Regions from separate parts of the Homo sapiens genome. Here region 2 is linked to region 1. The links come from fine-mapping of genetic effects on gene expression. A gene starts in region 1. The other region holds a variant in brackets. All regions are shown on one strand. Distances are between the middles of the regions. Region 1 holds the start of LINC01099 (long intergenic non-protein coding RNA 1099). Region 2 has its middle 330 kb from the start of LINC01099.

Evidence for each region. PIP is the estimated chance that this variant, and not a neighbour inherited with it, causes the effect.
Region 2: its variant is fine-mapped to the expression of LINC01099 in prefrontal cortex (CommonMind, PIP 0.95).

What each region holds. Positions count from the first base shown.
Region 1 is chr4:177,903,384-177,911,738 of GRCh38, forward strand. It overlaps LINC01099 (long intergenic non-protein coding RNA 1099), which reads right to left and starts at 4,553. Exons shown (of 2, transcript NR_108092.1): 1 at 4,361-4,553. All of the region lies in intron 2 of LINC01098 (long intergenic non-protein coding RNA 1098), which reads left to right.
Region 2 is chr4:178,230,026-178,238,380 of GRCh38, forward strand. No RefSeq gene overlaps it. Among named protein-coding and RNA genes, the nearest start is that of LINC01099, 330 kb to the left of the region's middle. The variant C/A (reference allele first, on the strand shown) is at 4,463.

The DNA of each region.
Region 1 (8,355 bases):
GAAAGGTATCATCTTTACAAACTTTTTGAGTCATTTTTTTCTTTCAGTTTACTGACAGTTAAATATCATAGTTGCCTCCATTGTAAGTATCATATCATTATACATACTTTTTGGAAGGGGTATTTCTGAAGCTCTATGGTAATAAATTGCATGTTTTGTGATCATGTCCACTTGATATGTTCATAAAAGTTACAGATACTCTTGCCATAAATACATTTAAATATCAAATTTTATACATACACAGAAAATTGTGTATACATTTTCAGTGAGTTCACATATCTAACTAAATTATACTTAAATAAAAGTACAGCTTGGGCTGGGCACAGTGGCTCACGCTTGTAATCCCAGCACTTTGGGAGGCCGAGGCGGGCGGATCACCTGAGGTCAGGAGTTCGAAAACAGCCTTAACATGGAGAAACCCTGTCTCTACTAAAAATACAAAATTAGCCGGGCGTGGTGGTGCATGCCTGTAATCCCAGCTACTCGGGAGACAAAGGCAGGAGAACTGCTTGAACCTGGGTGGCGGAGGTTGCGGTGAGCCGAGATCGCGCCATTGCACTCCAGCCTGGGCAACAAGAGAAAAACTCCGTCTCAAGAAAAAAAAAAAAGTAGAGCTTGGACAAGAATTAAACTTTGACTACCAATTATTCAACTACTCATTGTTCTGTAGCACATTTACTCAATTAAATAAACTACAAGAGTGTAATTTAATAGATATAATTTTTTCTTTTAGGAATAATCTCTATATATTTTCTCTATATAATTACAGAAGTAATTATTGTTTTATTAAAGTATTTTCAACATTTATGAAAAATATTAATGCATATTGACATGGTAGAAAAGTTATGTTTTGTTGCATTATTTAAAAAATTAAATTATTTTCTCTATTTTGGGGCATACAATTTATAGATGCCTAAAAATGTTGCACGTTTAAAAAAAAGACAAAGGTTATTGAATAAGTGGAAAACCAAAACACAGATCCATTAGACATATAGTAAATAAACATCTTATAGCTTTTACATCAACAGAAATTACAATTGTGCTGCTTTTCTGTTAGATGGGGACAGATTTCTATGGCATACTTGCTACATTTTCACCTAACATTTTCTTTGATCAATATTCATCATTTAATAGAATACTTTACGTGAATCTTCACTTTATTATACTGTTCTTTTACCAAGTTATTAGCACTTTGGAAGAATAGTGTTGTTAATTTTGCTTTCGGAATCTCCTACAATTAGAGAACATAGCATAACTCTTTTTACAGGTTAATCAACCAAAACGTTATCTAGGTAAGATCAGTTATGAAATTAGGACTGTACATTCCTGAATTCAAATCCAATGACTAGCCCACCGTATTTCTACCATGATTCTTAGCAATAATAACATAAAGACTTCATTAAAACACATAAAAAGACAAATGAAAAAACACACCAAAGAAGCCCCAACACCATCAAAAGGAGGTTGGTTAATTCTGATTGATAGGTTCAAACAGCCTTTGCACACAATTTTCCCAAATAAAAAAGTCCAAAGTCTTTAAGACTTGCAAAGCCCTTGATTGCTTCTCTGGTATCCTTGTCATTAACCCCTTCTTTTCCACCATCCGCACTAACATTTTACTCTGCGGTTATAGTTGTTTTTAGGTTTCAAAAGTTTAATGTTTGTTATCTCTTTCTATTGCTTTCCCAATATTACTCTTCTCTTACCCATAAAGTAGCAATAAACTCACTGTATTTTGTGTTTTTCATTTTCTTCATAACTCCTACAAACTACATACTGAGTGAAGGAGAAACCATGTCACTTTTGCTTGTCATTGTATCTCCAATGTTCAGAACAGTAATGGGTATATATTTGTTGAATAAATAACATAAACATACTGCTAGTGAGTCTGATATTTCCAATCTAGAGCATTAATATAGCTATGTAAATAAGTTTCCCTCATTGATTTCAGTGCCTTTATATTTAGAAACTACAACGATTCTGCTAGAGAGAAAAAAAATTACTTGTACTAAAACACACATTTTCATAGAAATTCTCTAGGATCCTCTCTCAGAAAAACATCTATTAAACATTGGATGCTATTTTCCATTAATGCTATTTTAGGAGTGATAGACTTTAGAAAAATTTCTAGAGTAACAGAACATATTATTATATGTAGTAGCCTCTACATTATTTAAGTATTTGATACAACTGATAGAACAATTTGAATATCATGTTTAAGAGGGTTTAAATGTCTATTCATATAATGTTCTAATGCTAAAGGCTAAGAAGATCTGGTTGCTAAACCAACTGAGAGCAGTATTATCTTGAAATATATATCAGTTTTATAGCAGCATAAGGTCAGACTCTAGCTATGATAACTTTTTCTCTAGTGATCCATTGAGGGCAGTGTAAGGGTTTTATGATGATATCTTCATTCTCCGTCAATCACTCCATTTTAAACCTAGATCTTTGGATATTTGCTAACAAGATTTCTTTACAATTAGAATCACACTTTAAGATTCTGTTGTGACAAATATCTTAAATATAAATATTTGTAGGATAGTACTCTTGTAATCTAATGTGGTTTTGTACCCGAAGTCTTCTAAATAACTTAATTTTCTATGTAACCATAGTATTAATATAACAACTCTGTACTACAGTAATAGCCTTTTAAAAATATTCAAAATATTTCATGCCTGTAGAGGGAACAAATAAAAATATATTCAAATTAATATCCTGTTGTGATCATTGTAATGAACATACTTAAACCTTTGCTTCATGACTCAGGTTCATCATTTTGCTTAGTGATTTTACTTTTCTCTAGAGTATGTGTAAGTGCTGTGAACTCAGCATAATCTTGGGTTTATCTCTTCCTAAATAAATTTCACCTACAGCCATGATTTAATTAATGTGCCACCACATTATTATTATTGTGTGTGTGTGTGTGTGTGTGTATGTCTGGGGGAATTGCCTTTTCTAAAAACAGTGTAATGCACATTCTTTAACTCTAACAAAACTGGTCTCCATATATAAAGAATACAACATCGGTGGTATTCTGAAGAAAGGCTAGAGCAGTATAGTCAAAATGCAATGCAGGATACATTGAAGTGTCCAAAGAATAAGGCAGGTGGGGCATCTTTATGAAACTGTTACCAATCAGAAGATGAGCACAGAGTGGAGTCTGTGTCAGAGAGGTAGTCCTGAAACAGGGCTTTAAATGTTGTGGTTAAGAAGATAATATGTATCTCAACATTTCAAAATCAGGTTTACATAAGCTACTAAATATTCACCAGGGACAGTTTATCCTTAAACCATAAATCTATGCCAAGTATAGTTCATAAAACTGCTATAGGGAAGTTCTCATTTGTCTCCACAATGTATTCTGAGAAACCTTACTGTACAGCAGATTGTTATAAAAATTTTATATTTTCTCATAGGAACAATGTTATAATTTGATGTTATATGGTAGACCAAGCATTTAATAAATCATAGACATGACTGAAAATATGTCTGAAAGTAACATACAACTACGAATTTGTGCAATAATTTTAAATGATAAAATTATGCTTGGTGTTCTGTTCAATGAACATAAATGTACTATATACTCTGATAATTCACAGGCCCCAGTGAATCATAAAATGAAAGCAGAATATATAAAAATACAATTCTGCTACATTATAAATTTGACCTATCATAAGATTAATTTAATTTTCCTCTGTGATTTTGTATATTGTTTTCTCTAAGGACCTCCTCATTCTATTACTACACCCCCATACACAACTGAAATAGTTCCTATATTCAATGTAAATTTTAATACTCAAATCCATCCCACTTACAGTATGATTAAATGTTGAAACTGAGAAGCATCTCAGACCAAAGTGTGGAAAAGATCAGATGGTTATTTGGAAACCCTATTTCTAAATGGTAGAGGGTGTGCCTGAGCTACTACTGACATACGTTTGTATGGATGTTTTGTTTGTTTTTGTTTTGTTGTATTTTTGGAAGTCAATTGTATAAAGGAAAAAAATTACTCTTTGAGCAATTAAAAAACACGTGGAAGAATCTCCATAACTCTTTCTCTCTGTTATGTTCAAGGAGGTGTCATTTCAGATACTGTGCAAATGTATTTATTCCAGGCCTTAAGTATATTTCTTTAAAATTTTGGTCAATATGCTCTTACTGTTTTTTTTAGCTGTTTTTATCTACAGTATCTTCAGTATTTTCTGACATCAGCTATTCCCAGTCTCTTATATCTTTAATTTTATCTTGCTGAGGCAATTTGGCTAATAAGCATGTTCAAATTTCACCTGTGTCCCAATGTAAACACACACACATACACACAGAAAAACAACAACAAAAAAATTTTAAGAACTCTTACCTTTTCCCAGACATCAGTTTCTGTGTTTATAACAAACCTTCAAAGGATGTCTGTGCACGCTGCCGCTGCCTCTGCTTCCCATTCTCATGACGGTGGAGCTTCCTCCCCTCTGCTTTCTGGCTTTCTCAAATGTTTTTTAAAGTAAGTAGCTGACAAAGTCAATCAGCCTTTGCCATTCCTCCTCTTTTTCTCCTCTGGAACATGTGACACTGTCAACACTTCCTGGAAATCCTGCACTCTCTCACGATGTGCTCTTGTACTCCTCCTGCTTTTACTGCTGTCTTCTCAGCTTTTTCCTACTCCCTAACACAGTTTTTGCTCTAATATTCTGCACTTGTTTATCTTTTCCAGCACAGTTATCTTCACCAATCTTATTTATGCACAGCGTTTTTCGTTTCTTCACAGAGAAAGTTTCCCAATTGTCCATCCGTTTGCTGACTTCTCCAGGACTCACATTCCGTAATACCTGCTGGGAATTCTGAGCTGGTTATCTCCCCAGAAGTTTTCTGCCCTAGATAAGCTACTTGCTTTCTTCCCGTTTTATCAGTTTCAAACCTAACTGCTCTCTAAAATTCAGGTGCGATATCAACCCGGCTGTGAAATACCCCAGTTTCAATAAATGCTCCTTCACTTGTGCTGCTTTCTACCTACATTTAGAACCTCTCACATCTATTCTTACATTTGTTTACTAAATGTGTTCTTATCACTACAACAGTATTTTCAAATTTACTGAAGGAAAAGAAACAATTCCGAAACAGCAAAGTTATTAAATATTCAGTTAGAAACTATTTTGGTAATATGCATATCTATATCTATATCTATATCTATATCTATATCTATATCTATATCTGTGTGTGTGTCTCTCTCTCTCTCTGTGTGTGTGTGTGTGTGTGTGTGTGTGTGTGTGTTAAAAGTTAGACTTATTTCCAGGATTTTTTTATTAGAATTTGTGAAAATGCTAACAGTGTTAAAATACAGTGACCTTAAAAGCTAACAATATGACAAGGTTGGCTTCATTTTTAGAAGTAGGTACACTGTCTCCAAAGGGTTTTATTTACTACAGATATTTGGTCTGTATATTTAGTGCTGAATTGTATGATTCTAAACATTAAAATGTAAGCAGCACATTTAACATAAAAAGGAAACCAGCTCTAGGTGAGATACATGTGTCACAGAGATTCTCAGTTATTAATGTTGCTACAAAATTTCCATTCTAATAGCACCACAAGAATCCAGGTATGCATAAGGCAGTCTCCATTAAGAATCAGTAGCAATCTTATGTTGCAAAACATAGGGTGTCTTTAGTTTTAATATGTTAATTTTTATCTCAATTCTGTGATATCACTTCAGTGTGGAGAAAACTGAAAAAATACACATCAGGTTCACTGCTGATTAAAAGCTTTTATTTACATTTTTACCTGATTTTTCATTCTAACCTAATATGCTAATTCATTAAATAAACTTCATATTATCATATTGTGAATTATTATCAGTAGCCCAGATGGAATCTTCATGTGAATTCAAGATAAAGGCATCCTATCTCAATATGCTTTACTTCCAACTGTCATACTGATTTCGTTGGAACATACATGTCATTGCTATCTATCAAATAATTGTTGCAACAAATATATAAATACATTATATTTGTGAATGAATGGCAGCTCCTTAAACTGTGGCATGCTTGTGTAATACACGACCCCCACAACAGTGTGTGCTGTGTGTACAGGCCATGGACTGTGCTACGGTTTGCAGATTAAATGTCCCTGAGCTTCAGTTACCTAATTTCTTAAATGAGAATGGCACCTATCTCATGACTTTTTGTAAGCATATGGAAAGGTATTACAACGTGAAGTATAAAATCATTATTCAATAAATCTGTTTTCTGTGTGTGTGTTATTTTTTAACCTATACTTCAGAACACACTGAAGATTACTTTCTCTAAGAATGGTGTCCTGATGCTCTCGGCCAGGGGTCAGTACGTTTTTTTCCTATAAGCTACCACATAGTAAATACATTAGGCTTTGCAGGCCGTCTGTTCTCTGTTACGACTACTCAACCATTGTGTTATAAAAGAAGCTGTAGATAAGACAGCATGCAAATGAATGATCGTGATTGTGTTCTAATAAAATTTAATTTACACACACAAACAAAAATAGACTGTATGATTTGGTCCACAGGTTATAGTTACTGACTCGTCATGCCAGCCCACACTATCTCATTTTCAATTTTCAATTTTTAGGCTTTGATTCAGAAAAAAAGTTTCAAAGTAAGGAACATTAATTTTCTCTTAAATCTCAGTTTGTGCCTATATTAAGGCTGAAGTTAGAGAAAGCTTATTTGCTGAAGGCCTCTTTTTCTTGACTGTATGTATCTCTGAAGTTTTTTACTTTCCTTTTTCCTTTTCTCTTTTTCTTGACTGTATGTATCTCTGAAGTTTTTTATTTTCCTTTTTCCTTTTCTCTTGTCTAAACTGATGTTTTTCTTCCCTTCTTTTGGGAAGAAAATACTTTTTTTTTCTATTGACGTTCATTATTTAGGCATTATTCCATTTTTTTTCACTTTTTTTCTCATAAGTATATGTTTATAAATCTACTTTATGTAAGCAACTTTATTTTCTAAAGTTATATACTTTTTTAATTAAATAAAATGCTCAAGGCAGCCTTTCTCATATTCTGGGGTGCCCAGCATCTATGTCATACCTTTTGTGGCCTTTCAAAATTCCTATATTCTGATAGTCTATCTCCTTATGAATTTTTGCTCAAGTGAAATTATCAACCCTATTAATGGTCAGAGCTATTGTTCTACAAGTCACCATTAACTCGAGTTTGAGGCCTGAAGCAATCTGTGAAAGAAGGCCTTGGAACAATGCAGTTGTTCTACCGTGTATCACAGAAAAGCTAATTTAGCTTTCATAATGAAAACAAGTATCAGTGTCCTGAAGTTTCCCAGCCCTGGGCAGGGATGCGTATTCAACTCCATCAATGTGAAAATAAAAGTTATTTTGCTATTTTTAATAGCGTCTATTACTCAAAGAGTATTTACTGCTTCTTATTCTTCCTTCAGAGCTGGTTTATTTATTTCAGTCTTATTCTTGCTATAGAGAATCTAACTAACTTTTTTTTAAAAAAGAAAACTGAAGTCAAACCAATAATCTTCAAAGACATATGAAACTACTGTATGCCAAGCAGTGTGGCATCAAGTACAACCTATTTTAAAAGTTAAGAAGAAACATAATGAAAGATTTGAATGTACCACCTACACTATATTATTGATTATGTTAACCCAAAGTACATACTATGTAGCTAGTTAAGTATTACAACTTTGTTTTAAAAGAAAAGGGTCAGGCGCGGTGGCTCACGCCTGTAGTCCCAGCACTTTGGGAGGCCGAGGTGGGTGGATCATGAGGTCAGGAGATCGAGACCATCCTGGCTAACACGGTGAAACCCCATCTCTACTAAAAATACAAAAAAAAAAAATTAGCCGGGTGTGGTGGCGGGTGCCTGTAGTCCCAGCTATTCAGGAGGCTGAGGCAGGAGAATGGTGTGTACCCGGGAGGCGGAGCTTGCAGTGAGCCGAGATTGTGCCACTGCACTCTAGCCTAGGTGACAAAGCAAGACTCCATCTCAAAAAAAAAAAAAAAAAAGGCAATACACTAAATATGAATTTAAGTAAAATTCAAAGCAGAATATTCTTTTATTAGAATTTCCACCAATACACTCAAAGGAATTCAAAGACTCATGACCACAAAACAAGTTTGCATTAATTATCACGGTGTGATATCAGTATTTTTAAATATATACATGCCCACTTATGATAGGGTTATGTTCCAGTAAACCCAAGCTAAGTTGAAAATATCATAAAGTTGAAAATTCATTTAATACATCTAATATACCAAACACCATAGTTTAGCCTAGACTACTTAAACAGGAAATTTTTCTTGTCCTGTTTGCAGGCTTTCCAACAAGGGTGTCTCACTTACTCAGCCGGCAGCTCTC
Region 2 (8,355 bases), 330 kb after region 1:
ACCACAAAAGAGCCTGCATACCCAAAGCAAAACTAAGCAAAAAGAACAAATCTGGAGGAATCACACTACCTGACTTCAAACTAGAATATAAGGCCATACTCACCAAAATAGCATTGTACTTGTATAAAAATAGGCACATAGGTCAATGGTACAAAATAGAGAACCCAGAAATAAACCCAAATACTTACAGCCAACTGATCTTCAACAAAGCAAACAAAAACATAAAGGGGGGAAAGGACACCAGTTTCATCAAATGGTGCTGGGATAATTGGCTAGCCACATGGAGGAGAATGAAACTAGATCCTCATCTCTCTCACCTTATACAAAAATCAACTCAACATGGATCAAAGGCTTAAATTTAAGACCTGAAACTATAAAAATTCTAGAAGGTAACATAAAAACCCTTCTAGACATTGACTTAGGCAAGGGTTTCATGACCAAGAACCCAAAAGCAAATGAAATAAAAACAAAGATAAACAGTTGGGACTTAATTAAACTAAAGAGCTTTTGCATGGCAAGAGGCACGGTCAGCAGAGTAAATAGACAACCCACAGAGTGGGAGAAAACCTTCACAATGTACACATCTGACAAAGGACTAATATCCAGAATCTACAATGAACTCAAACAAATCAGTAAGAAAAAAACAAACAATCTCATCAAAAAGTGGGCTAAGGACATGAATAGACAATTCTCAAAAGAAGATATACAAATTACCAAAAAACATGAAAAAATGTTCAACATAACTAATGATCAGGGAAATGCAAATCAAAACCACAATACGATACCACTTTACTCCTCCAAGAACAGCCATAATAAAAAAAAATGAAAAACCAGTAGATGTTGGCGTGTATGCAGTGATCAGGGAACACTTCTACTCTGCTGGTGGGAATGTAAACTAGTACAGCTGCTATGGGAAACTGTGTGGAGATTCCTTGAAGAACTAAAAGTAGAACTACCATTTGATCCAGCAATCCCACTACTGGGTATCTACCCAGAGGAAAAGAAGTCATTATTCAAAAAAAAAAAAAAAAACTTGTACATGCATGTTTATAGCAGCACAACTTGCAATTCCAAAATCATGGAACTGAGAGGTGAAGGCAGCGGGGCTTCTGGGTCAGGTGAGGACTTGGAGAACTTTTCTGTCTAGCTAAAGGATTGTAAATGCACCAATCAGCGCTCTGTGTCTAGCTAAATGCTTGTAAACGCACCAATCAGCACTCTGTCAAAACGGACCAATCAGCACTCTGTAAAATGGACCAATCAGCTCTCTGTAAAATGGACCAATCAGCAGGATGTGGGTGGGGCCAAATAAGGGAATAAAAGCTGGCCACCTGAGCCAGCAGCAGCAACCCACCCAGGTCCCCTTCCATCCTGTGGAAGCTGTGTTCTTTCACTCTTCGCAATAAATCTTGCTGCTGCTCACTCTGGGTCCGTACTACCTTTATGAGCTGTAACACTCACTGTGAAGGTCTGTGGCTTCACTCCTGAAGTCAGCAAGACCACGAACCCACTAGAAGGAAGAAACTCAGGACACATCTGAACATCTGAAGGAACAAACTCCAGACACACCATCTTTAAGAACTGTAACACTCACTGTGAGGGTCTGTGGCTTCATTCTTGAAGTCAGTGAGACAAAAAACCCACCAGAGGAACCAATTCCAGACACAGAACCAACCTAAATGACCATCAATCAATGAATGGATGGATGAAGAAACTCATATATATATATATATATATATATATGTAGATGAGATACATATGATGGAATACTACTCATCCATAAAAAGGAATCAATTAAGGGCGTTTGCATCCACCTGGATGAATTGGAAACTATTATTCTAAGTGAAGTAACTCAGGAATGGAAAACTAAACATTGTATGTTCTCACTGATACGTGGGAGCTAAGCTATGAGAATGCAAAGGCATAAGAATGTTACAGTGGACTTTGGGGACTTGTGGGGAAAGGATGGGAGGAGAGGCGAGTGATAAAAGACTACAGATAGGGTGCAGTGCATACTGCTTAGGTGATGGGTGCCCCAAAATCTCACAAGTCACCACTAAAGAACTTATGTAATCAAATATCACCTTTACCCCAATAACTTATGGAAAAATTTTAAAAAATAGAAACAGATAAATAATGGAATAAGTAAAGCCAGGTTTGCATAATTTTTAAGCTATATTGTTAAGTACTTTTGACACAATAGACCTAGGGAAAGAGCCAAAGTCTTCTGGAATATGCAGCATTTCTCCAATACTTACTAAGCAAAGCAAAGAATTTTTCTTCAGATGTATTTATTATTTATTAGAAAGGAGTATTTCAAGTTCTCATTGTGTGTTTCCAGTTTAAGATTTTCACGTCTCATCATTTTTGTGTGTTTTATTTTTCTCTTGTCTTTTGAATCTGCTTTGTGGAAATGTTCTCAAAATTTTCTTCTGCATTACTGATATGGTTTTCTACAAAATAAACTCTGAGTTCAATTAAAATGTTAATTTTGTTACTGCACTTTAAGGTTATAAGCATCTAATGTTATTGTCTTTTAATATTGGCACATTTACCCTATGTGGTTTTCTGCTATGATTTTATGAAAGCCATATTATTTTTCACCTACCAGATGCTAAACACTTTTCTAAGGTATTTTTCATTTTTTGTATTTACAAAGGTTCAAATAATTCAAAGAAAATGCATTTTTTACTACCATATCTATATGCAGCAGATAAGAGGATGGAACTTAGTTTTAACATTTGCTTGCTTCATTAACATAATTAATAACAATTTTATTTCTTGCTTTAGATGTAATATTAAATTATTTATGTTCTTATGTAAATTATTCTTAGAAATATATATTTTATCCAAATTGATGTAAGAATTTCTATCTGTTCATTAAAAAATGGACTTTGTGAGTCTTGCTCTAAAAGTAGTTCTCACTATAGTGTATTGTTTAAGCTACAAAGGCAAAGCACAACTGAGAATATAAAATTTCTGATTAATACAGAACCATACTAAGAACCAAGGTGATAATGAAGTTGAATTTAAGAATTATGTAGATATACTATTACTATCAACCGAAAGTAGTAGGATAGTTACACAATTTAGTTCCAAAATGTGTGCAAGTTCAACTAGAGGTATTACAAAAAGAATGTCAATACTTCTCATGTAATCTTGACTACTTTATATAAGAGAAACAATAATGCAGGATTTCACTTTCACATGCCTGCAGAGGGTGATTAAGAATTAAACTGTTAAGAAAAAAAAAGCGAAGGGGGCAGGGGGAATTGGTGGTAAAAATGAAACTGCCAATTGCATTCAAACTAATTAAAAACAAAATACACAAAAATGACGAAACAAATCAGTCTGAAGGATAGATCACACAAGTTTTTCTTTTTTTTATGGTCCAATGTATATACTAAGTGAATAACTTTGGCTTTTGTTATCCTAACATAGCTATTGATTTTATTTTGGCTTATTTCCTTGACATTTTATTTTTATTTATTTATTAATTTATTTTGTTTTATTTTACTGTAAGTTCTGGAATACATGTACAGAATGTGCACATTTGTTACATAGGTATATGTGTGCCATGGTGGTTTGCTGCACCTAACTACCCATTATCTAGGTTTTAAGCCCCACATGCATTAGCTATTTGTCCTGATGCTCTCCCTCCCCTCCCTCCACCACAGGCCCCGATGTGTGATGTTCCCCTCCTTGTGTCCATGTGTTCTCATGGTTGAAATTCCACCTGTGAGTGAGAACATGCAGTGTTTGGTTTTCTGCTCCTGTGTTAATTTGCTGAGAATGATGGTTTCCAGCTTCACCCATGTTTCTGCAAAGGACATGATCTTTTTATGGCTGCATAATATTCCATGGTGTATATGTACCACATGTTCTTTATCCAGTCTATCACTGGATAAACCAATCATTTTGGTTGGTTCCAAGTCTTTGCTATTGCAAACAGTTCTGCAATAAATATACATGTGCATGTGTCTTTGTGGTAGAATGATTTACATTTCTTTGAGTATATACCTAGTAATGGGATTGCTAGGTGAATTGGTATTTCTGGTTCTAAATCTTTGAGGAATTGCCACACTGTCTTCCACAATGGTTGAATTAATTTATATTCCCACCAACAGTGTAAAAACATTCCCATTTCTCAACAGCCTCCTCAGCATCTATTTTTTCTTGACTTTTTAATGATTGCCATTCTGACTAGAATGAGATGGTATCTCATTGTGGTTTTGATTTGCATTTCTATAATGACTAATGATGTTGAGATTTTTTTCATATGTTTCTTGGCCACATAAATGTCTTCTTTTGAGAAGTGTCTGTTCATATTCTTAGCCTACTTTTTGATGGGGTTGTTTGATTCTTTCTTATAAAAAATTTGTTTAAGTACCTTGTAGATTCTGGATATTAGACCTTCATCAGATGGGTAGATTGCAAACATTTTCTCCCATTCTGTAGTTTG[C/A]GTGTTCACTCTGATGATGGTTTTTTATTTTTTTTCTGTGCAGAAGCTCTTTAATTAGATTCCATTTGTCTAGTTTGCTATTGTTGAAATAGCTTTTGGCATTTTTGTCATGAAATATGTGCCCATATTCTGAATGTTCTGTATGCCCATATTCTGTATGTTCTGAATGGTACTGCATAGATTTTCTTCTAGGATTTTTATAGTTTGAGGTTTTACATTTATGTCTTTAATCCACCTTGAGTTAATTTTTGTATAAGGTGTAAGGAAGGGGTCCAGTTTCTGTTTTCTGCATATGGCTTGCCAGTTTTCCCAGTACCATTTATTAAATAGGAAATCCTTTCCCCATTGCATGTTTTTGTCAGCTTTGTCAAAGATCAGATGTTTATAGATGTATGGTATTATTTCTGAGGTCTCTGTTCTGGTCCATTGGCCTATGTATCTGTTTTGGTACCAGTACCATGCTGTTTGGTTACTGTAGCCTTGTAGTATAGTTTGAAGTCAAGTAGTATGATGCCTCCAGCTTTGTTCTTTTGCTTAGGGTTGTCTTTTTTGGTTCTGTATGAAATTTAAAGCAGGTTTTTCTAATTCTGTGCAGAATATCAATGGTAGTTTGATAGGAATTGCATTGAATCTATAAATTACTTTGGGCAGCATGACCATTTTCATGTTACTGATTCTTCCTTTCCATGAGAATGAAATGTTTTTCCATTTGTTTGTGTCGTATCTTGTTTCCTTGAGAAGTGGCTTGTAGTTCTCCTTGAAGAGGTCCTTCACATCCCTTGTAAGCTGTATTCCTACATATTTTTTTCTCTCTGTAGCAATTGTGAATGGGAATTCATTCATGATTTGGCTCTTTGCTTGTCTTTTGTTGGTGTATAGGAATGCTTATGATTTTTGCACATTGGTTTTGTATCCTGAGAGGTTGCTGAAATTGCTTACAGCTTAAGGAGTTTTGGGGCTGACACGATGGGGTTTTCTAAATATAGAATCTTGTCATCTACAAACAGAGACAGTTAGACTTTCTCTCTTCCTATTTGAATATGCTTTATTTCTTTCTCTTTCCTGATTGCCCTGGCCAGAACTTCCAATACTAGGTTGAATAGGACTGGTAAGAAGGAGCATCCTTGTCTTGTGTTAGTTTTCAGAGGGAATGCTTCCAGCTTTTGCCCATTCAGTATGATGTTGGTTGTGTGTTTGTCATAAATAGCTCTTATTATTTTGAGATATGTTCCATCAATTCCTAGTATATTGAGAGTTTCTAACATGAAGGAATGTTGAATTTTATCAAAAGCCTTTTCTGCATCTATTGAGATAATGATGTGCTTTTTGTCATTGGTTCTGTTTATGAGATTATTGGGAAACCCGCCCCTGATAATTCAACATTATTTCACGTAAGTTCTTTTCTATTTCCCTAAGTGTCAGCCTGTCTGAGAAATAATGGAAAAGAGTACAAAAGAGAGAAATTTTAAAGCTGGGTATCTGGGGGAGACATCATATGTCAGCAGGTTCCATGATGCCCCCCAAGCCACAAAATCAGCAAGTTTTTATTAGTGATTTTCAAAAGGGGAGAGAGTGTACAAATAGGGTGTGGGTCATAGAGATCACATGCTTCACAAAGTAGTAAAATATTACAAGGCAAATAGAGGCAGGGCGAGATCACAGGACCAGGGCGAAATTAAAATTGCTAATGAAGTTTCGTGCACGCATTGTCATTGATAACATCTTATCAGGAGACAGGGTTTGAGAGCGGACAACTGGTCTGACCAAAATTTATTAGGCAGGAATTTCCTCATCCTAATAGTCCTGGGAGCGCTATGGGAGACCAGGGCTTATTTCATCGCTTATCTACAACCATAAAAGACAGACATTCCCAGAGTGGCCATTTCAGAGACCTACCCCTAGGAACGCATTCTCTTTCTCAGGGCTGTTTCTCGCTGAGAAAAAGAATTCAGCGATATTTCTCCTATTTGCTTTTGAAAGAAGAGAAATATGGCTCTGTTCCACCCGGCTCTCAGGCAGCCAGACCTAATGGTTATCTCCCTTGTTCCCTGAACGTCGCTGTTATCATGTTCTTTTTTCAAGGTTCCCAGATTTCATGTTGTTAAAACAATCTGTGCAGTTAACGCAGTCATCACAGGTTCCTGAGGTGACATACATCCTCAGTTTAAGAAGATGATGGGGTTAAGAGATTAAAGTAAAGACAGGCGTAGGAAATCACAAGAATATTGATTGGGGAAGTGATACATGTCCATGAAATCCTCAAAATTTATGTTCAGAGATTGCAGTAAAGACAGGCATAAGAAATTATAAAAGTATTAACTTGGGGAACTAATAAATGTCCATGAAATCTTCACAATTTATGTTCTGCTGCCATGGCTTCAGTGGGTCCCTCCATTCAGTGTCCCTGACTTCCCGCAACATGAGATGGATTACATTTATTGATTTGCATATGTTGAACCAGCCTTGCATCCCAAGGATGAAGCTGACTGGTTCATAGTGGATAAGCTTTTTGATGTGCTGCTGGATTTGGTTTGCCAGTATTTTATTGAGGATTTTTGCATCGATATTCATTAGGGATATTGGCCTGAAATTTTATTTTTTTGTTGTTTCTCTGACAGGTTTTGGTATCAGGATGAAGCTGCTCTCATAAAATGAGTTAGGGGAGTCCCTTCTTTTCAATTGTTTTGAATAGTTTCAGAAGGAATGGTATCAGCTCCTCTTTGTATTTCTGGTAGAATTCAGCTGAGAATTCATCTGGTCCTGGGCTTTTTTTGATTTGTAGGCTGTTAATTACTGCCTCAATTTCAGAACCAGTTTTGCATACCTATTTGTGACTAATGAGTAAAATAATCTCTAGCTAGAAAAATCATTGACCAGCAATTAATGTAATCTGAAACTGATTTTGCTGTCAGTCAGATGTATTTTATGACTATGTAAAATTATAGTTTTCATGAAGAGACATGAAGAAAATATCATTGTTTAATGATTCTAGAATCACTGGCCATGCAGTTTAGTAAATACAGAATATCAGCATTAAGAGTAGAAAGAAAATGGATAATGTTGTGGATAATCATCTTATGACTGATTAGAGCACAGAATTTCATTGACATGGCTCTACCTTTTACTACTGTAAGGAAAACGCTTTACTAAAGGACAGACATTATAACTACACAACATATTTAATAAGGCTCATTGATATTATTAATGTAGGAATACCTAAATGTCAAAAGAATAAAGTTGTTTCAATCTTATTGGAATGATTGGAAACATTGCAATAAAACAAAATATAAGACATTTTTCCTCTTCGCAAATTCCATTCCAAGCCTTTAATAAAGAGAAACTCAATTACAAAAAATATGAGTATGATAGTCTAGGGCAGCTTTATAGGCTTTATTTAGACAACATTATTTGTTGGCAGCCTCGACGGAGGTAGTAATTACTAGTGAGAAAAGCAAACACACAACAAAGAAAGATGGATCCATCTGAAGCATGAAAGTAAAGCTATTGTTTCTTTTATGAAAGGACAGTTAAAATTCTGCTGTGTTAAATTCTGCCATGTTAAAATTCTGCCATGTTAAAAAATTCTGCCATGGTAAAATTCAAATGAATGACCTTTTGCAATATATTGGAAACAAAAATACATTAATAAATATAGAAAACTGGGATGAGTTTGATTTTCTAATTGTAGAAAAAAACGAAAACAAAAACTTTAGACCTAGGCTATAATGTGAACTCCCAAAGTTTTACAAGAATTAAAATCTTCCAGGGTGTGGTCTCTAAACACATTAGAATGAATGTGAAAAATTAACAAAACATAGTAGCTCTAATACAAACTAGAAAACCTAGAAGAAATAAACTCCCAGAAACATATAATCTCCCAATATTAAACCAGG